Regions from separate parts of the Homo sapiens genome. Here region 2 is linked to region 1. A link means that fine-mapping ties the variant in region 1 to the expression of a gene that starts in the linked region. Tissue or cell type: subcutaneous fat. Region 1 holds a variant in brackets; the other region holds the start of a gene. All regions are shown on one strand. Distances are between the middles of the regions.

Region 1 (11,007 bases):
CTTGGGGGCAACTTCAACTAATGCCAACTTGATTAACATTGGAAATAGTTATGTTTCAAATAAAAATGTACACAAGTTTTAATTGCACTGGCTACCTCAAATTTTCTGAACAAAGCTTTTTTGCATAAGAGATAAAGGTTGGTGACGCCTTTTATGAAATTGGTCCAAACTCATCAGAACTAGCAATCAAAAATTAATTCCTTGTTTTATTTTGAATTTTATACTTCATTGTAATGATCGTATTGTATATTTCTGAGCATTAGGTTTGCAACAACTCATGGATAAAGTATGGATTTCTGACCTGACCTGTAAGCAAATTACTCCTCCATTCCACACCTCTTTTCTGTGAAAAGGGATGACTTAATCTCTGCCCTATTTACATACAAAGTCATGATGACAGTCATGAGAAGGAATTGGATTTGAAATGGCAATGAAAGTCAAAGTGTTATCTTTGCCAGTGTGTGGACTCAGTTTACATTAAAGTTACAGGTTCCCACCAGCTCCTCCTCTCCCCAGGAGGTCTGGTGTTCTACGTGTAATCACTCAAGGTGAACCATGACTTTCATATCAGCAGTGAAATCAGCTGCTCTAGTTATTTCCTGTTCTGGCAGCACCCTGCTGAGCATCTCGTGATTTCAGGAGAGTAGAAGCTGGGTGGTGGAGCAGTCCAGGTTTGTCTTAAAAATACAGTTCTCCAGCTGTTGTATTGGATTTCCTCTCACAGAAACCTAAGGTCGACAGAGGATTACAAATTTGCCTTTCCATAACTTGGATCCCTTGCTCTTCTCTAGGTGTCGAGATTATAACTCTCTCCTTTCCTACCTACTCCTTCCCACGACACCACTTCCTCTCACCCAGTGTGTCCAAGCTGATCAAACTGGGTGTGTCATTGTTCGCACACTTGCTGGGCCATGGGGCAGGCAAGGAGCGGCTCCTTAAACCACACCAAAGGTTTGTGGTCCAGAATTGGTCACCACCCTCAGCACCTCAGCATGCAGTGCTTTGTGGACAGACAGCGTCCTTTCTCACTCTTTTGAGTGACCCTCCCCAGCTGGCTCAAGTTGGCCTTGCAGCCTGATAGGCCTTTTAAACAAGGAAAGGAAGGTCTCTCAGCACACTTTAACTTACTAGTTATTCAGCTTATTTTCTTAATAAGCCACAAGCTCTAAGGGCTCTTCAGAACTCCTAATTTCAACACTGGAAATTATTTTCTTCTCTTTATTAAGAATTTGCAGCCAGGCGTGGTGGCTCACATCTGTAATCCCAGCACTTTGGGAGGCCAAGGCAGGTGAATCACTTGAGGTCAGGGGTTCAAGACCAGCCTGGCCAACATGTTAAAACCCTGACTCTACTAAAAATGCAAAAATCAGCCAGGCATGGTGGCACATACCTGTAATCCCAGCTATTCGGGAGGCTGAGGCAGGAGAATCGCTTGAACCAGGGAGGCGGAGGCTGCAGTAAGCAGAGATTGCACCACTGCACTCCAGCTTGGATGACAGAGCGAGACCCTGTCTGAAAAAAAAAAAAAAAGAATTTGCTACATTCCAGACACTATATTGAGTGCTTTTTATATATAAGAAGTAAAGCTTAAAGAGGTTAAGCAACATGCCCAGGGTCACCCAGGCAGTGAGCTGAAGAGGTAGGATTTGAACCCACTCTGGCTCGAGGGCCCATGTCTCACCCTAGCTCAGGCTCCTGAACCTCCCAATTTTTCCCCATCAAGCTGGGCACATGAGCCCTCAAGGACAGCTTTGCAAAGCACCATGCAAAGTGCTTGAGGCAAATACGAGTGTCACTTGGTGCAGACACCCTCAGGCCAAGGTCAACAGCCACATAGGCTCCCCACTCTCCAAACGGGAGAGGTGCGCTAGGTCTGGAGTTCAGCTGGAAACACGTGGGCCTGTGCTCCAGCAGAGGGCTCCCATCACCTCTCTGCTCTCTTTTTTTATGAAGCAAGGGTGACAGCGCCTCTGTTTTGCTTCTTGAACCGGCCATTCCAGTGCTCATTTAGATGCACCGGTAATGGTTCATAGGAGTGTAGAATATCCAGCAAATTCCACGATGCTGGGTGTGGTCATGGGAGGCAGTGGTCATAAATGAAGTTCTTGCTGTGGGATTGTCAGGGAATCCAGCACATGACAAAGGGAGTTATCCATGATCATAGTAGTCTGTGATCATTCCCTTGGAAGAGACAGACAACTTCATGCCTTGAGAATGTTTTCAAGAAAGTGAAGTTCCCTAATCGGGGGCAGGGAGCCTATAAAGTTAGCCTTCTAGTTGTGGGCCATGCCACATCCTGGTGGGATGCAGCCCAGCTCACTCAAACCACATGCCGCTTAGCTGGTAAGCAGTCCATCTCTGTGTCACATAGATTCCCTGTTGGGCTTCCCAGTCCTTGGTGGCTGTTTCATGACTGTGCTGAGTCCTGCAGGCCTCTATGGTCTGTTGTATAATATTATGGCTCCTGCATCCAGAGGCTTCTTGGGCTTCTTCATTCCAAATGCTTTTCTCAGAAGCTGTCTTTTCTGTGCGGCACAGTCCCACACTGCTAGCTGAGAGGATGGGGACTGTGAGCACCTGCTAACTCTTCTATCCCTAGTCCCAGCCTGTGGAAGTGATGGCCCTGGTGTTTTCTCTAGCAGAGTATACCAACGTGGAATGAATGATGCCTGACTAGGCCTGCAGAAGGGGTCAACCAGGCCCTTCAGGGTGGTTTATTTCATTTTGGAAGGAGGAGGAGAGACCCTAATTGTTCAGGTGTAGACACATCTGATACTGGGAAATGGGTGATGTGGGAGTAAATCTCTCTCTCTCTCTCTTTCTCTCTCGGTGGGGCAGGCTCTCACTCGGTTGCCTTGCTGGGGTGCAGTGGCACCATCTCAGCTCACTGCAGCCTGGACCTTCGGGCTCAAGTGATTCTCCCACCTCGGCTACCTGAGTAGCTGGGACTACAGGTGTGCCACCACGCCCAGCTAATTTTTGTCAAATCTCTCTCTTCTTTGAGGTCTGAGTATGACAGGACAATGGCCTCCATTGATGAGCCACTGGGGCCAGAGAGCAGAACCATGCAGCTGAGAAGGACCGTCAGATGAGTGACCTCTGGAGCTCTCTGGACAGCCTGGAAGAGTGGCTTCTTTCTTCCAGGGAGAAAGCCTCAGTCTCTCCTGGACTGGGCCCCAAACTCTCTGCACTTCACACTGGACTGGCCCTGAACTCTCCAGGTGTTAAGGAGCTGACATTTTCCCCCAACTCTCTAAACATCTGGTCTCTAAGCTTAGACTACCTGACACCTAAATCTATAATGTTTATTTATCCTGAGCAAAACCTCTCTCATACTAGCCCCTCTGCAACAGCAGACAGCTGCCTCACTGGGGAAGCTCCACAGTGCATGACCTCTGTGGGATGCTAAGAGGATGGGACTATAGCCACCTGCTGACCCTCAGACCATTACCAATTGTATTTGCTGATGTTCTTCCTGAGCCACTCTGAGTGACAAAAAATATTTAAGGTTGAGGAAAGAAGCCTTTGACATTATTTAACTATGCTCCAATGGACCTCTGCCCTAAACACCAGACTCAGACCCAGCTGCCTACTGGGTGGCAGTAGGATCTCCATTTGGAGATGTTTACTGGGCATCTTTGGCCTAATGCAGGCCTATCTCCAGCCTCTGTCCAGCCTGCTCCTTCCCTGTCTTTCCCATCTCAGCAAACGGGACCTTCTCCTTTCCATTTTCTCAGGCCGTGCTCGACCTTGTCATTTTTCCCTTGACTTCTCTCATTCTGTCACGCCTGTCATCCAACCCGTTGGGAGAGCAGATAAGATTGATCCAGGATATATATGAAGTATTGGCCACTTCTCATCACCTTCTGGCTACCAGCAGAGCCTTTGCTGGTCTATATTGTGTTGCTTTTCTACAATTTAGAAAAACATCACCCCCATGACTGAATGGGTGGCAGAGCCTTTGAGTAGAGAACGATACTCCTTCCTTGGATGGCTGAAGCCCCACAGTTAGACTCTGGGCTGATGCTCAGTGCCCTGACTAGACTCCAGCCCCACCTATCCATGAGGCTGGTGCCTTGCTCCCTGCATCACCTGCACAATCATGCGCAGTGAGCTGAGCAGGCCACGCTGGTGCAGACCTGCTGTCTCACTCACCTAGACCATTGCAGTCAGCTCTAAGGTCTCCGCTTTTACCCTTGCCCTACCACCTTTCAGTCTGTTCTCAATGCGAGGCCACAGCGATCTTTTATTATTTTATTATAATAATAATAATAATTATTGAAACAGAGTCTCTCTCTGACACCCAGGCTGGAGTACAGTGATGTGATTGTGGCTCACTGTAGCCTCAAACTCTTGGGCTCACACATTCCCCCCATCTCAGCCTCCTGAGTAGCGGCGATTACAGGTGTATGCCATCCTACCTGGCCAATTTTTTTCTTTTCTTTTCTTTTAGAGATGGGGCCTCAACTGTGTTGACCAAGCTGTTTAGAATTCCTGGGCTCAAGTCATCCTCCTCAGCCTCCCAAAGTGCTGGGATTACAGGCATGAGCCACCATGCCCAGCCTGATTATTTAAAAGTATACATCAAATCAAGGCACTCCTCTGCTGTAAACCTCACTCTAAGCAAAAGCCAAAGTTCCAGCAAAGTCCTATGAAGCCCCATACAATTCGTCCCCTATTACCTTGTTGACCCATCTCTTGTTATCTTCCCCTTCCTCCTTTTGCTGTGAACACAAGACCTCCTTGGGGTCTCTTGAAGTGCTAGGCCTCCTCTCACCTCTGGCAGAGCTCTTGCACTCACACCTCCATCTGCTGGAAGGTTCTCCCACATAGGTTTACCTGGCTCATTCTCAACCTGGCTTAGGTCTTTACTCAAATGTCACCTATTCTGTGAAATGTCACCTTCGCTGTCCAACTATTTAAAAATGCAATCTCCCTCCCCTCTCCCCTCAATCTGACATTTCTTTCACCCCTTCCCGTAGCACTTTTTCTTTTTCTCCACAGCCCTTACCACCATCTAACACGTTACATTTATTTCACTTATTTATTTTCTTGTCTCTTTCCTCATTAGAACAAGCTCCACAAAAGCAGGCGTTTTCATCTGTCTTCTTGTTGGCTGTGTTCTCAGCACCTAGAGCACTGCCTGATCCCTAATAGGTGAACGGTTCCTTTATATTTGTTGAATGAATGAGTGGCAGGAGGCAGAGTGGGTCTATTATGTGGAAATATATGAGATTGTTCTTGCCAGTCAAAAGCTGTCAAATATTGGCAGCTTCACGTGGTTCAAATTAATGTAACGTAATACAGAACAATGGCCAAAAGGAGGTGTTACGTGAGGGACATTTGCTCCTGATTTGCTCAGTGTGCTCCTTCCTGTTGGAAAACATGAGATTCTTTTATAATCCCCTGGGAACGAATTTCCCATATAAATAGACATTTCCCTTCCTGAGCCCATCATTCACAGAGCAGCCTTCTTCCAGGTAGAGCACCAGCAGTAATAATGCCCGTCTTGGCCTTCAGGCCTCCAGATATAAATTTTTTGGCTATGGGACAATTTTTTTTGGCTATGGGACACTTAGAAAAAATAAAGATCAATAGACTATCAAACTGTAGCCAGACATCAGATCCAATGCCAGGGACCTTGGCAAAGGTGACATCAGTAACGAGAGGAGGTGCCTCCAACTGACTGCTCAGGGCTGGGAGGAACAAGCCTCTGTGGTCTGAGCCCAGGAGCCTGCACCCCATCCACTGGGCTCACACAGAGTGTTCAGAGCCCAGAAATCTCTTCCTCTGCCAGGTCTGCCTCTGCTGAGCTTGCAAAAAGGCATAGTCCTATTGCACAAAT[C/CT]TTTTTTTTTTCTTTTCCTTTCTGTTTTTTTTCCATATACCCAAGGGAATGGGAATAAAACCTTAATTTTGTGCCTTGTAAATACAGCTTTTAAAAAGATATAGACTATTAAAATCCAAATAAAAAAGATCTTTACGTTTGGTGTCTCCAAATGCTATATTCCAGGACGTACATGCTGAGGCATCTGTCAGTCAAGACCACAAGATACAGCCATCCGGCCTATGCACTTAGTATTTGCTAAAAGCGTGGTTACTGGTTGAGTGCGTCTGCAACACGGGGGCCCACGTTCAAATGCCTGCACGAGCCAGGTGGGAAATACAAGCGAGTGAAACTGGCTGACTCACGGCCACAAAGAAATGTGTTTCCTCCCAATCTGCTTGACTTCAGGCCATCTTTTTTTCCCCTCACTTTTGGTTAAGATGTGGGTACAAAAAGTATTATGCTTTTCTTCTTAAATCTATTAGAAGGAAAATATCAATACAAGTGTGACCACAATAGCACCTGGCACAGTCTCCCAGGAATGTAAAGGTTTGTGCCAATTTAGGGCACTTGATCTGCCTCAGAGGGTCTGCCTCTGCGGAGCTTCCATCTGCTGATTAACAGGGCATCACCCTACTTCACAAAGGCCTGTGTTCAGAGAAACCTCCCCCGGCTTTGTGCCATGGCCAGGGACCTCCTGACAAAGGTAGACCCTCACCTTCTGACTCTCCTGGAGTCTGTTCTTCACTCTGACCCAAACTATGTCAAGTTCAGAAAACTGATTTCTGCCTCTCCCTCCATCCATTTATCTGATGCTCATCCGTGAGGCAGCTGGAATAGGATTGCTCCATTCCCCTGCCCAGGCATTGTTTTAAATCCCTGCAGAAAACAACAGCTACAACCATCATGGTAATGAGGGATGACGGTGACAACCACAACCTGGAGAGCTCGATGGAGAAGGAGAGGGAGAGATCTGGTGACAAGTGACTCTCTTCAGCAGATCTAATCACTCCTAGAAAGATGTGACTGCCTTTTCATGCACAGCATCACTTAAAAGTTCTAGAGAACTAGGCAAGGGGTAGGGGAAATGCAGCTGAAGTACATAGAAAAAAGTCTGCTGGAAATTTGAAATGATACTGAGTACAATGTACATCAGAAAGATTAAATGGAAATAAGGCAAAAGTAGGAAAGTTTCAGTCAAAGTTGAAGGCTTGAGTTTTAGCTGGATGTGGTCTTGAGGAAATGCAGGTTCAGTGGGACTACATCATCGGATGTTTCACGAAGCAGGAATTCTGCTTTGGAAAACCAAACCAGCCAATAAGCAAATGAAAAGATGCTTAACATCATTAGTCATCAGGGAAATGCAAATCAAAACCCCAATGAGATAATAACATTTCATCCTAACCATCCACTAGAATGGCTAAAATAAAAAAAGACTGATGATAACAAGTGTTGGGGAATACGTGGAAAAAAATGAAACCCTCATACATTTCTGGTGGAAATGTAAAATGGTGCAGCTACTTTGTAAAACATTTTGGTGGTTCCTCAAAAATTTAAACATAAAGTCACCATATAACCCAGAAATTCCACTGCTATGCCCATACCCAAGAGAGATGATTTTTTAATAAAAAAAAAACTTGCTTATTCAATTGAAAATAATTTTTAATAAAAGCAATGATAATGCCATTTTGTCAGGGGAAGATAATAGTTTATAAAACTTGTGCACAAGGCCAGGCATGGTGGCTCACACCTGTAATTCCAGCACTTTGAGAGGCTGAGGCAGGAGAATCACTTGAGCCCAGAAGTTTGAGACCAGCCTGGGCAACATAGTGAGACTCCAATCTTTATAAGTAATATAAGTAAACATAAGTAAATAAATAAATAAATAAAATTTAAAAAACTTGTGCACAAATGTTCATAGCATCATTTTTCATAATAGCCAAAACCTGGAAACAATCCAAATGTCCATCCACTAAATGAACAGATAAACAAAATTTGATCTATCCACACAATGGAATATTATTTGGCCATGAAAAGAAATAAAGTTCTGATACATGCTGCAATATGAATGAAACTTCAAAACATGCAAAGGGAAAGAAGCCGGTCACAAAAGACCACATATTACAGTATATGACTTCATTATGTGAAATGTCCAGAACAGACACCTTTGTCCATACACAAATCTATAGAGACATAAAGTGGTTGCCTAGTGCTGGGGAAAATGAGGAGGGTCTGCTAATGGGTATGGAGTTTCTTTTGTGGAAGATGAAAGTGTTCTACAGTTGATTGTGGCAATGGTTGCACAACTCTGAATGTACTAGATCACTGAATTGTACACTTTGATGGGTGAATTGCATGGTATGTGAATTATGTATCAATACAGCTCATAAAAAACAAGCAGTCAGGTGAAGAACAAACATGAGAAACTGTCTTCAAATGCAGATAACAGTAACAGAGATGACAAAATGAAAGACAAGGAAGTGACAGAGTGGAGAGCTAACATGCAGATAACTGATGCTCCTGAAGAAGATCCTAGAGCCAGTGGGCTGCAAATCAGAAATAAAGATATAAGAAACTCCCCCTGCACTGATTCCTTGCAAAATCACTCAGACACATCGACACCTAGACACATCCAACCCTTACAAATGCCCAATAAACACATTAAAAAATAACTTTAGTTCCACTATTTAATAAAAAAAGTATTTGCTTATTCAACTGAAAATGATTTATAATAAAAGCAATGATAATGCCAACTGTTAGTGAGGCTCTGAGGGAACTGGGCCCTACATATATTGTTAATGGAAACATAAACCGTAGAACTTTTTCATGTTTGTTCTTCACCTGACTGCTTGTTTTTTTATGAGCTTTATTGATACATAATTCACATACCATGCAATTCACCCATCAAAGTGTACAATTCAGTGATTTAGCAATTTGAGAGCACATAGCAAACCTTAGTATAAGTATATTCTTATTCACTTTCCCAGCATTTCTATCTCTAAGAATTCCCCCTGAGGGGGGAAAAGGACTAGATTTATCCAGATATTTAGCTATAAGAATATTATGAAAATTTATGCATATCTCCAATGCTCAATGACACAGGGATTTGTTAAATTAATTTTGCTCTCATCATATAATTAAAAATCATGAGGCCACTGATGATGTTTTGGAAAAATGCTTAATGACAGATACTTTTTCATGACTTTTTTTTGTTAAAGGAAGATAACGGTTTATAAGACAGCATATGCACCATTTAAAAAATTTACAATACATGCATACATACATATATTACATGTACACATGAGTAGAAGGTGAGGGAGAAGTAGGAAACCAAGAATGGGAAAAGTTCTTATTACACATTAAGTGGTAACAATGATTTTTATTTTCTTTTTGCTTTTAAAACACTTGTATGGTGATTATGCACGGACTTCTGTAATGGTAAAAATAATAACGAAAGATGTTTTAAGAGTTCTCCAGGCTGGACACAGTGGCTTATGTCTGTAATCTCAGCACTTTGGAGGCCAAGGCAGAAGGATCACTTGAACCCAGGAGCTTGAGACCAGCCTGGGCAACATAGTGAGACCCCCATCTCTACAGAACGAGTTTTTAAAAAATTAGCCGGGCATGGTAGTGAAAGCTTGCAGTCCCACCTGCTCCATAGGCCAAGGCGTGAGGATTGCTTAAGCCCAGGAGGTTGAGGCTGCAGTGAGCCATGATTGTGTCACTGCACTCCAGCCTGGTTGACAGAGTGAGACCCTGTCTCAGAAAAAAAAAAAAAAAAAGTTCTCCTCAGGCTAGAGTCCAACCCTTCAGCAAGTGCATCAGACCCTGGCCCCAGCAGCTCCTGCAACTTCAACTAGTGGGTATGGGGCATCTTTGGGGGCCATACATCATTTCTGATACTTCCCTAAATGGGGGCCGTATTTGTGTTTTCACAGCGATCTGCCATTTCATTTGCCTGGAGCGTTCTCCTCTCACTCCCCCACCTGGCTTCCTGACTATTGTCTCATGGGTCGCCTTTCCTGGGATGCCACCCAAGCAGAGGGAACCATTTCCTGCTCCCACTTTACCCTGTGCATGCACTATTTTTGTATCTTGCACGGCAAGTTTACACTTCTCTCTCATGACTCATTGGAGGATTAGGCTGGGTTCTTAATCATCCTTCTTGTTTAATCAGCATCCAACGCAGGCCTGTACAAATGTTTATGGAGTAAACGAGTGAATGAATGAATGAGTCTGTTTGAGCTCTAGGCTCACATGAGCCTTGAGTGCAGAAGATCTGCACTCAAGTGCCCCTTGGGTCCCTAAATCAACATGCCCCAAACTAAGCCCACCGTTTTCTCCTTGTTCCTCATTACCAATCCTCACTGTTTTTGTGCGTGCCCCATCTCTGTGATTGGAACTACACCCTTCCAGTGACGAGCTGGGATCTTGGGTGCCTCTTTTTTCTGCTGTAATAATTCTCCTGGGGCTATCAATTCTGTCACTCACATGACTCCTGTGTTGTTTTCCCTTCTTTCCATGCCCATGCTGCCGACCTCTCTCCCTCACTCTTCCTCTCTCTTAGATATCTGCCACAGCCTCCTCACCCCTATCCTGTTGAAAACTCCCTAGTGACCTCCGTTTTCCCCAGGATACAGTCAGAACTCTTTGTCAAGGTTTACCTGCCCTGTGTGATCCAGCCCTGCTCAGCCCTGACTATCTCTCCAGCTTCGTTTCTCCTCAGCCCCACCCCTTTCATCCTTCTTAGGAGCGACCTGAAGAACTTTCTTCTCTCCGTGCCTCATTCATATTGTTGGTTTTGTCTGGAATCCTTTTTCCAACCCCCTTGCCTCCCTAACTCATTTGTCAAGCCTTACTTTAAAAGACACTTCTTCCAGGAACCCTTCCTTCACTCCCCAAGTCCAGTTAGGCCCCTCGCATATACACCCCCCCTAGCTCCCTACACTTTCCCCAACATAGCTCTCTCACACTGTATTTAATCGTTCACTTAATTGTTCTTCTCCCCCAACAGACTGTAAGAGACAACAGCCGGTGTCAGGGCGGTGAGGTGGGGAAGCAGAAAACACGTCTGCTTGTTCACGAACGTTCTTCCAATGTCCAGCAAAAATTTGGTCCTTAATAAATCCGCTTATCATTCAACAAGCCAACAGATGGAACAATGTTTGCTTGCGCTACTGCAG
Region 2 (11,007 bases), 82 kb before region 1:
CAGTAGGTTCAACTACCACTCCAGATAATTCATATAATCAGGCAAGTCTGAAAAACATTGCAGAATAGGATGCAAAAATGAATGAGACATAGCTCCTTCTCAGAAAGAGTGCAAGATGGAAAGCAAATTGGTGCACAAAAGTGCATTTAAAGAGAACCAACAAGACGTAAGGAAGACATGAAAACCATTGGAGGAATTAAGGAGTGCCTCCTGGAAGAAATGACATGTGAGCAAAGTCTCAAGATTAGTTACGACCCCATACGAGGCCAGATATAGAAAGAATCACCAAGGAATAGTAATAGCTGGCATTTCTCAGGTGCCTGCTAGGTGCCAGGCATTGTGCTAAGCATTTAACCCACCATATTTTATTTAATCCTCACCACAACCTTATGAAGTAGAAGCTATTGTAATTCCTAATTTCAAAAGAGAAAGGCTAGGTTTTGGTTACCACACTGCCCAAGGTGACACCGTTCACATGTGCAGAGCTAGGTAGAAAGGAGGCGGTACTCCTTATCTTATGCTCTTTCCCACTGTCCTCTTCCACCTTCCAGGTGACATGAGCCTCAGAGATGTGTAACAGCTGTGACATTTTTGCAAATGACAGGAGAAAGTGTCCAGGGAGGTATATGGGCCAGGGGAAGAAACTGCATGAAGTATTGGAACTTGGCAGTGATTTCCTAGTGCAAGCTCAACTCATTCATTTTGTAAATGAGGAAAGAGAACCCCAGAGAAGGTATATGACTTGCCTAAAGTCATATACATTTTGTACCTTTAGTATATTTTGATAGTGGCAAAATGTACTAAAGATCCAGATCCCAGGCAGCACTCTCTTTCCACTACAGAAAACTGGAGGCCAACATCGTATAGGCCTTTGTGGATGCCTTGCTAAGGAAGTCCGAGCTATGCTATAGGAGATACATTCAGTCATGGGCTACATAATGACGTTTTGATCAAAGATGAACCACATATATGATGGTGGTGCCATAAGATTATAATACCATATTTTTACTGTACCTTTTCTATGTTTAGATATGTTTACCATTATATTACCATTGCCTATAGTATTCAGTATAGTAGCATACTGTTCCAATTTGTAGCCTAGGAGCACTAGGCTATACCATACAGACTAGGTGTATAGTAGGTTATACCATCTAGGTTTGTGTTAAGTACACTCTATGATAGTCACACAATGAAATTGCCTAATGATGCATTTCTCAGAACATATCCTCATTGCTAAGTGATGCATGGCTGCATATGTAAAATACACATAACATAAAATTCACCATGTTAACTGTTTAAGTTACAATTCAGTGACATTAATGCATTGACAATGTTGTGCAACCATCACCACTATCCATTGCCAGAACTTTTTCATCATCCCAAACGGAAACTCTGAACCCATCAGATAATAATCTCCTATTCCCCCTCCCCCTCATCCCTTGGTAACAATCATTCTACCTTCTGACTTTATGAATTTGCCTATTTTAGGTATCTTATATATGTGGAATCATTCAATATTTGTTTTTTATGATAGGCTTATTTAATTTAGCATCATGTTTTCAAGATTCACCCATGTTGTAGCATGTGTCAGTACACCATTCCTTTTTTCCCCATTTTCTCATTGTGGTAAAGTGAAAAAAAATATTTACCATTGTAACAGTTTTTACATATACAGTTCAGTGGTATTAAGTACATTCAGATTGTTGTGCAACCATTACCACTCTCCATCTTCATAATTATTTTCATTTTGCAAAACTGAAACTTTGTACCAATTAAACAATAGCTCCCCATTCCTTCTTCCCCAAGACCTAGGCAACCATCATCCTACTTTTTGTCTCTATGAATTTGACTACTCTAGCTACCTCATGTAAGTGGAATCATATAGTATTTGTCTTTTGTGACTGGCTTATTTCACTTAGCACAATGTCTTCAAGGTATATCCGTGTTGTAGCATGTGTCAGAATTTCATTCCATTTGAAGGCTGAATAATATTGCATTCTGTGTATATACGCACACACATACACATGAAGGGGCTTCAAAAATTTGGGGAGCATGCATATTATGAAAAAAGTAAGCATGGATTTCAATTTTTGTTTGCACCCAAATAAACTCGTACTCATTTGTTACAACATGTCTGAACAGGATCTAGTTTGAGTCACTAAGAAGGATAAGATATCAGTTTGAAAAGAGCCCCTCTCAGAGGAACATGAATTCTGAAAAATTGAAGCAACGGCAAACATGAAATTTATGGTGAAGCTTGGGTGGAAGAATGGTGAAATCACTGATACTTTACGAAGAGCTTTTTGTGGGCAATGACCCAAAGATATCAGCGGTTTACAAGTGGATACTCATTTCAGGAAGGGACGAGAGGATGTTGAAGATGAAGTCTGCAGCAGCAGACCATCCACATAATTTGTGAGAAAAAAATTAACCTTATTCATGCCCTAATTGAAGAGGACTGATGATTAACAGCATAAACATAACCAACACCACAGACACCTCAGTTGGTTGAACTTACTCATTTCTGACTGGCAGATTAAAGTTGAGCACACTTTCCACTTGATGGGTGCCAAAATTGTTGTGACCAGATCAGCTGTAGACAAGAATAGAGCTTTCAATGGAAATACGAAACAAGCGGGATCAAGATCATGAAAGATTTCTTTGAAGAACTGTAATAACAGAAAAAACAGGCTTTACAAGTGTGATCCAGAAGACAAAGCACAATCAAAGCAATGGCTACCAAGAGGTGGAAGTGGTTCAGACAAAGCAAAAGCAAACTAATCAAGAGCAAAGGTCATAGCAATAGTTTTTGGGGGATGCTCACAGTATTTTGCATGTGATTTTCTGTAGAGGGCCAAAGAATGAAATATCTGCTTATTATGAGGGTATTTTGAGAAATTAGCCAAAGCTTTAGCAGAAAAAATGCCTGAAAAAGCTCCACCAAAGAGTCCTTCTCCACCATGACAATACTACTGCTCATTCCTCTAATTGAACAAGGGCAATTATTAGCCATCCTTCTTACCATCCTGATTTGGCTCTTTCTGACTTCATTTCCTAATCTTAAAAAGTCTTTAAGGAGCAGCTATTTTTCTTACGTTAATAATGTAAAAAAAAAGGGCTTCATTGACATGGTTAAGTTCCCAGGACCCATGCCAGGCCTGGTGGCTCATGCTTGTAATCCCAGCATTTTGGGAGGCTGAGGTGAGAGGATTGCTTGAGGCCAGGAGTTTGAGACCAGCCTGAGCAACCTAGCCAGACCCTGTTTTAACAAAAAAATAAAAATAAATAAATAAAATAGAAAAATTCCCAGGATCCTTAGTCCTTTAGAGATGGACTAAATGTCTGCCATCATTACAAAAGCATCTTGAACGTGATGGAGCTTATGCTGAGAGCTAAAGTTTATGTATTTTTATCTTTTAATTCCATTTTCCCACAAACTTTTGGAAGTTCCCATGTGAGTGTATGTGTGTATGTGGAGCATTTTGTTTGTCCCTTCATCATTGATGGACATTTGGATTGTTTCCATGTTTTCGCTATGGTGAATAATGCTGCTATGAACATGGATGTACAAACATGCCTTTGAGACCCTGTGTATTAGTTCACTTGCACACTGCTGATAAAGACATACCGGAAACTGGGAACAAAAGGAGGTTTAATTGGACTTACAGTTCCACATGACTGGGGAGGCCTCAGAATCAAGGCAGGAGGTGAAAGGCATTCCTTACGTGGTAGCATCAAGAGGAAACTGAGGGAGAAGCAAAAGTGGAAACCCCTGATAAACCCACAGGATCTCGTCAGGCTTATTCACTATCACGAGAATAGCATGGGAAAAACAGGCTCCCATGATTCAATTACCTTCCCCTGGGTCCCTCCCACAATACGTGGGAATTCTGGGAGATACAATTCAAGTTGAGATTTGGGTGGGGACACAGCCAAACCGTATCACCCTGCTTTTAATTTTTTGGGTTAGACACCCGGAAGTGGAAACACTCGATCATATGGTAATTGTATTTTTTAACTTTTTGAGGAAACCCTATACTGTTTTCTACAGTGGCTTCACCATTTTACTTTCCTACCGACAGTGCACAGGGTTCCAGTTTCTCCACATTCTCACCAACACTTGTTATCATTTCTTTTTACAGCTGGATAATATTCTATTGCATGTATATACTATATGTATTTTGTTAATCCACTTAGCTGATGGACATTTGGGTTGTTTCTGTCTTTTGGCTACTGTGAATAGTGCTGCCATGAACATCAGTGTATGTGTGTCCCTGCTTTCAATAGTTTGGGGTTACATACCTTGGAGTGGGATTGCGGGACTATATGCCTCACGTTTTGAGGAATCTATGGGCTTGTAAAGGTAGACTGTGCTCTGTAAGTCAGCGCTGTCCGTCCCAGCCTTCTAAGCAGACATCCCTGGGCGGGGGTCCTTCCTCTCTCCAGTGTGCTACCCCGCCCCCTTGTTTGCTCTCCAGAAAGCACTTCTCTGAGCCTCTTTTACGGAGAGGTAGGGCAGCTGGCAACAAAGATGGCCCTGGTGTCCGTTCAGGCTGGCCCAGGGGACCAGGTTGGGGCCGGCCCCTGAGTGTCCCCTGAGGAGGTGTGTGAGCAGCGGGGGAGGCTCCTCGGTCCTTTGCAAGCTCGCGGCTGAGCGGGGCCGTGTCCGTCCACTCCGACGGCGCTGGGCTGCCAAGGTGAGCCGCCGAGGAGCCCCGTGCCCCGAGGCGGGCACAGCCGCCCTGCATGGGTGCCCCCGGCGCGGGATTGACGCAGAGCCCTGCCCGGAGCCCCAGCGACCCCGTTCCTGCCCCAGGCGGCCGTTCCGAAGCCTGAGCCGGGCAACGCGCAGCCCGCCTGGCCCGGCTCCCTCCCGCGCGTCCTCGTCGCGAGCTGCCGCCTGGGAGCTCCAGACGCTCCCGCCCAGGGCGATCCGGACGCTCCCGCCCAGGGCGATCCCGGCCTCTGCAGCCCAGCTGGCGACACGCCTCGCCAAGAGCCCGCACCTCGGCGCCTCACGGCCACCGGAGGCGGGGACAGGGAGTCCGGCGCGGGCCGGGTCGGGGGATCTGCAGCGGCGGCGCGAAGGTAACTCCCCCGCCAGAGCCGGGAAAGAGCCCCGAGCAGAGGAGGAAGGGAGCGGGGACCTGCCCTTCGCCTGCCGGCTTCTGGAAGAAGCGTCTCCTGATCCGGCCCCGGAATAAGAAACCCGGACCTTGCCTGCCGGGCTCCGCGATGCCGCAGGTACAGAGCGCGCCCTCCCGGGGAGGATGCTCCAGGGACCCCGCGCTGCACTGGCTGCGGCCGTGGGGTGCGGCGGCTTCTGAGTGAAGAGGGGACTTTGCCAGGGATTCACTCCTGTGAGTTTCTTCAGGAGAGCCAGGCTTCCCCTCCTCTGTCCTTAGGGGAAGCTGCCCAGGCTCCAGGGAGAAAGTTGGGAGCAGGCGGGGGACTTGCCAGCAGGGGTTTGTGAGAGAGGCTTCTAGCGATCGAGAGGTCACCAGGTGGGGGTAGGATTGGGGTTCCCCTCTGAACGGTGAGAATAAAGGAGAAAAGACCTCTGGACAATCATCCTTAATCTCGTGACGCCCTCCTCTCCACCCCCGAAGCTTCTGTATTCTTTGCTTTTAAACACTACTTTGACCCTTCAGGTAGCATGCTTGTAGGGGTACCCCTCCAGGAGTGGCATGCCTCTGCGACCCACGGGACCTGCAAGGAGTGGGGCTTGTCCCGCCTGGGTTCCAAGCCTGCCCCCCTCCTTCTTTTCAGCTGAGTTCTGCCTCTCCTCCCTGAGTGGGCAGAGGGCAAGGGCTGAGCCAGACAGAATTGAGAGCTCGGAGGAAGGAAAAAATCAGGGTAAGGAGTTAGGACAGAGAGGCAGCAATGGGGCTGAGCCTCACTGGGGCGCAGAGGGACTTTAAACTTGGCCCCAAGAAGACAGGCTCCAGATGTTTTGCCTCGGAGGAATATGGAGAGCAGGCTTTCCTGGGGGTGGGGAGGTGGGGTCCTGGGCATCTTCCTCATCTTCCTTTCCCAGGAAAACTCTGGCTTGCATTCTTCCCTCTGTTCTCCTGACATTTGTTTTAGGGTGCTCTCCAGACCTCAGCCCTCCTTCTACGTCCCACTCCCTGGTCTGATGTCTTCAGGGTTTGGGAGGGACTGCAGGGAGAGAGCAGGGGACAGGGGGACTCTGGCTGCCTCCCTGTCCCCACCAGGGCAGCTGACACCCCCCTAGACCCCTCACCCCAGCCCCATTATGTGGTGTGGTGGAGTCCCTGTATCAGGATTTCGCTCCCCTTCCTTGCAGCTGACAGAGGAGGCCTGAGAGCGCAGTAGTAACTCCTTGCAGTTCTAGGGTGTAACACTCTCCTCCAGGGAGCTCCAGGCTGTGCAGACATTATTGATCTCCTGCCTGGCAGAAGTTGAACCTCTGAGTGTTTAAGCTATTTACCCCTGGACACTCAACCAGCCAAGGAAAAATTTTGCTCTAGCGTCCCCATTCTCATCACTTGGTTAGTCACAGGCTGTGACTTTACCCTACAGCCTCTGTCTGGGGACAGGCCTTCATAAATGCTGTTCCCAGCTTCTAGGGTCATAGCAGGTTCTAATGTGGGAACAGGAAGTCCAGCAAATAGTGAGGAAGGTGGCTGCTCTATGGCTCTGTGATTTTAGAGCCATGTTCTGCCAGAAGAGCAAGGAGAGCAGACAGGCTTGTCTGAAAGCCCTCCCTCTTAAATAGCATTTAAAGAAATTTCTTTCTCTTCAGCCTCCCCACACTCCCAACTTTTGTCCTTGAGAAAAGGTGCAACACTTCTGAGTCTTCAGTGGAACAGAAATAAACTGAGCCAGTGCTTGATTGTCTCTATAGCAATCCACCCTTCCCTAATTGAGTATGTGGTTTTCATTCATTTTCTCTCATTGGTTCCTTTATTTCCACTCCATCACCCTATGTTCACTCTGGGCAGGGAGCTAATAGGTCTGCTTAGGTTACAGGGTGGTTTTGAATTTGGCCAGCTTTACTGCAACATATAGCCAACTGTTTGTATGTCTTTCAAAGGTTTAGAATGGAGCTCAGATACCATACCCCAAAGATGCTGGCAGAGACATTCTGACTCATTAAGGGAGAGCTGGCTGATAGCAGAGAGGGGTGACATCAGCCTTGCAGACATTGCCCTGGGGAATTCTGAGCAGTGTTGCTCACAGCACCACCTGGCCAGATGGAGACCACCATGGGGTTCATGGATGACAATGCCACCAACACTTCCACCAGCTTCCTTTCTGTGCTCAACCCTCATGGAGCCCATGCCACTTCCTTCCCATTCAACTTCAGCTACAGCGACTATGATATGCCTTTGGATGAAGATGAGGATGTGACCAATTCCAGGACGTTCTTTGCTGCCAAGATTGTCATTGGGATGGCCCTGGTGGGCATCATGCTGGTCTGCGGCATTGGAAACTTCATCTTTATCGCTGCCCTGGTCCGCTACAAGAAACTGCGCAACCTCACCAACCTGCTCATCGCCAACCTGGCCATCTCTGACTTCCTGGTGGCCATTGTCTGCTGCCCCTTTGAGATGGACTACTATGTGGTGCGCCAGCTCTCCTGGGAGCACGGCCACGTCCTGTGCACCTCTGTCAACTACCTGCGCACTGTCTCTCTCTATGTCTCCACCAATGCCCTGCTGGCCATCGCCATTGACAGGTGAGTGCAGCAGCAGTGGGGACAACAAAGGCGGTCAGGGAGGAAGGGGCATTGGAATTGCCCCCTCCTGTACTGCAGTTGCAGATTGATGAGAGGTGTCTCTATTCCCCCTAGATGTGGTTGCATGGGGGACTCAAAAGCTTGCCCATTGACTGACAGTGAGAAGAGTTCTCCTTTTCCAGCTTTGTTCAGACAGAAGACAGCAGAGCCCTCTAGAGTTGGGTGATGGGAAGCTTTTGATCTCCCTTGCTATGGATGTTTTCCTAGATATTACACCTTTCAAGGTCTAGAGTAGACAGGTAAGAGGAGATATCGAGGGAAACTTTAAGCGTCAGGCAGTTACCTCTTGAGTCAATGTGGAAATCTTGAAGGAGGTTTCTATCTCATCAAGACTTCCTCTACTAAAATATGACCTTCTAGCATCATCTGTTTTTAAATAAGATTCAAGGATTTATGACTGGCTGTGGTAAACAGTTCAAGCCTATAATCCCAGCAATTTGGGAGGCCGAGATAGGAGGAGCATTTGAGGCCAGGAGTTCGAGACCAGCATGGGCAACATATCCAGACCTCACCTTTTGAAAAAATTAAAAAATTAGCTGAGCGTGGTGGTGTGTGCCTGTAGTCCTAGCTAGTTGAGAGGCTGAGGCAGGAGGATCACTTGAGCCCAGGAATTCCAGGCTGCAGTGAGCTATGTTCATGCCACTGTGCTCCAGCCTGGGTGACAGAGGGAGACCTTGTCTCTAAAAAATAAATAAATAAATAAAAATAAAAAGATTGAGGGATTTGTTTTGAAAAAAAAGGGAACATATGTTTATTTACTTTTTGTTGTTGCATTAATCACTTTGCACCTTTTAGTCCATTTGCACAGATAGTGCAGAAGACCTGTTTCTGGTGATCGCAAATAAAATCAGTAAGAGCAGCCTCTGCATATCTTTCTTCAACTTAGTCTCTTCCTTTAGTGTAAACTTGTGCTAATGGGCCAGGCTGGTCTTTGTTCCTCGGGGGACAATCTTTGCTAGCTCCTCTGCCCACAGCTGGACTGTCATTACAAAGCACCTGGTTACAGTCTAGAGACAATTATCCTGAGGATCAAATCAGGCTTCTGTGTACTTGGATCTGAACAGCCTGTCTCTCTCCTTTAACCCAGAGAGCCTGAGGCATACATGCTCTCCCTGTTCTCTGGCCTCAAGGATCTGAGGGGGTTTGACCTGGCCCTCACAGTCAGGACAGTGTTCTAGGGAGGAGCACAGCTAAGAGAGCTTGTTTTCTGAGACCGTAGGCAGGGCGACCAGGGGTGGGATGACCGAAAAGGATAACCTGAAAAAAGGGGGTTACCAAGGAACCTCTGTCTATAAAACCGCTGAGGGGTGGAAACTCTGCCTCCCTTCTCTAGGGAAGGACATCAGGAAGTTAGCAGCTTACATAGCCCTTGGTCTGTCCCCGTAGATCCTTGCAGAGTGCTACTTCTTCTTGGCCAAATTCCCTCCACTGAATCACAGAGCCCTGCAGCTTTTCATTTACCTGGAGGCCAAATTCCCTCCACTGAATCAAAGAGCCCTGCAGCTTTTCATTTACCTGGACAAGGACCCCGCATGAACCCACTGAAGGAGCAGGAGGGGAGCAGTCAAGTAGAGTATCTACTTCGTAGGTTCCTTTCAAAGCTGCCAAGGAAGAGCTCCAGGGACTTTGTCTCTGAACTTTTTTGAAAGTAGAAGCCGCCACCTTCTCTCTTAGCCCATGAACAGGACAAAGCATACAGAGTCATTTCCTGAAGTTTCATACTAGCGAGAAACTACATGTGCTCAGCTACTAAAAGCAGGGTAGGGTGCCTCCTGTGGAGTGGGACCCTACTCCCCGGATGAGATCCATTTTACCACTTGAACGGAGTAACAATGGTAGGAGGAAGTAGCTTCAAGGGGAAAGGAAGCCAGGATACACTAAGGGGCATTGGGTTATTTGGAACATGTAAGAGTGATATCTATGTCAATCAGTCAGTCTCCATCTACTGAACTTCTTCAAGCTTATAACCTCCTTTCATACCAAACAGAGCTTGTCTGAAATACTGCAAGCATTTCTCTTGCAGTGTGAGTTTACACAAAGGAAATTAGATACAATAAGAAAGATGAATTAGAAAAAATGCTTTGCACCGTGGGAGCTTCTATGGTTGAGTGGGGTTATGATAGGAAGCTTGTACCCAGACCTCAAGGAAAGCACCATGTGCCTTCACAGGGCTGCCCAATGGTCTTGGTGGATGAATGGCTGCACCAATGCCCATTCTTTTATTGATGTTTGTGATCTTTGCTGCAATTATTTTTATTTGTATGTGTTGTTACCATCTAATTGTGGTCTAGGAATCATTAATTTTTCTCTGGTCTCACGTGTTGTTCAGGATTTGATCAGTTGGGAGCAACTAATTTTTATCTTGGTTTATAACAGATCTACTTAGTTGTAAAAATGTCTTTATTTTTGCTTAATGAAATTTCTGTAGCCATGTTGGCAGTTATTCTGCCTGGGTTTAAGTACCAGCTGTATTGTGTGTTGGGTATTATGTTAGTTATTTGACCTCTCTCTGCCTCAGTTTTCTCGCCTACAAAATGAGGATAAAAAGAAAGCCTATTGTATTGGGTTGCTTTGAGGATTGAATGAAATAAATATATTTAATTTCTTAGAACAATATTCAAAACAGTAAGCAATAAATAAACAGTGGATATGATAATTCTTAAATTAACCCTTATAGGAATGTCTACAACAAAAAAGCAGGTAAACTAATGAACATTTCTGACACACTAACCTTTTTGCTTTCATTGAAATTATTGTTTTTATGATGTGATTTAAAAAAAATACAAGATTTTTACAAAATGCCAGAACAGAACTATTTATCATCTACCTGCTTGTATTTGTCTATATTATTGGTTCCATTGTTCTCCGAGGCATCTAACCTAGAAGAAAGTCTCCTTTGTCCTGGCTGCTCTCCCTTCTTTACCAGCATTCATTCAACCTCCAGGTCTTGGCAATACCCGTTTGTTCATTCAGGGCTGGTATCCTAGTCTCCTCTTGGTCTTCCTGCCTTCAGTGTTTCTTGGATCTGCCCATCTGTCAACGCTACTCCCCTGACAATCCATCCTAAACTTTCATTCATTCATTCATTTAAACAATCCATTTTTATAGAGTAACTGTGATGTGACAGATGCTATTGCAAGCACTGGAGATACGACAGTGAATAAGACAAAAAAAACTCCTTGCTTTCCTGGAGCTTATAACCAAAGGATGGAGAGAGATCCAGTCAGGCAAACACAAAAGGAAGG

The links. PIP is the estimated chance that this variant, and not a neighbour inherited with it, causes the effect.
Region 2: PROKR1 starts here. The variant in region 1 is fine-mapped to the expression of PROKR1 in subcutaneous fat (FUSION, PIP 0.93).

The regions. Positions count from the first base shown.
Region 1 is chr2:68,721,063-68,732,069 of GRCh38, forward strand. It overlaps a transcript of ARHGAP25 not described here. Among named protein-coding and RNA genes, the nearest start is that of ARHGAP25, 8.2 kb to the right of the region's middle. The variant C/CT (reference allele first, on the strand shown) is at 5,846.
Region 2 is chr2:68,638,605-68,649,611 of GRCh38, forward strand. PROKR1 (prokineticin receptor 1) reads left to right here and starts at 4,975. Exons shown (of 3, transcript NM_138964.4): 1 at 4,975-5,244; 2 at 7,058-7,702. The coding sequence starts at 7,218.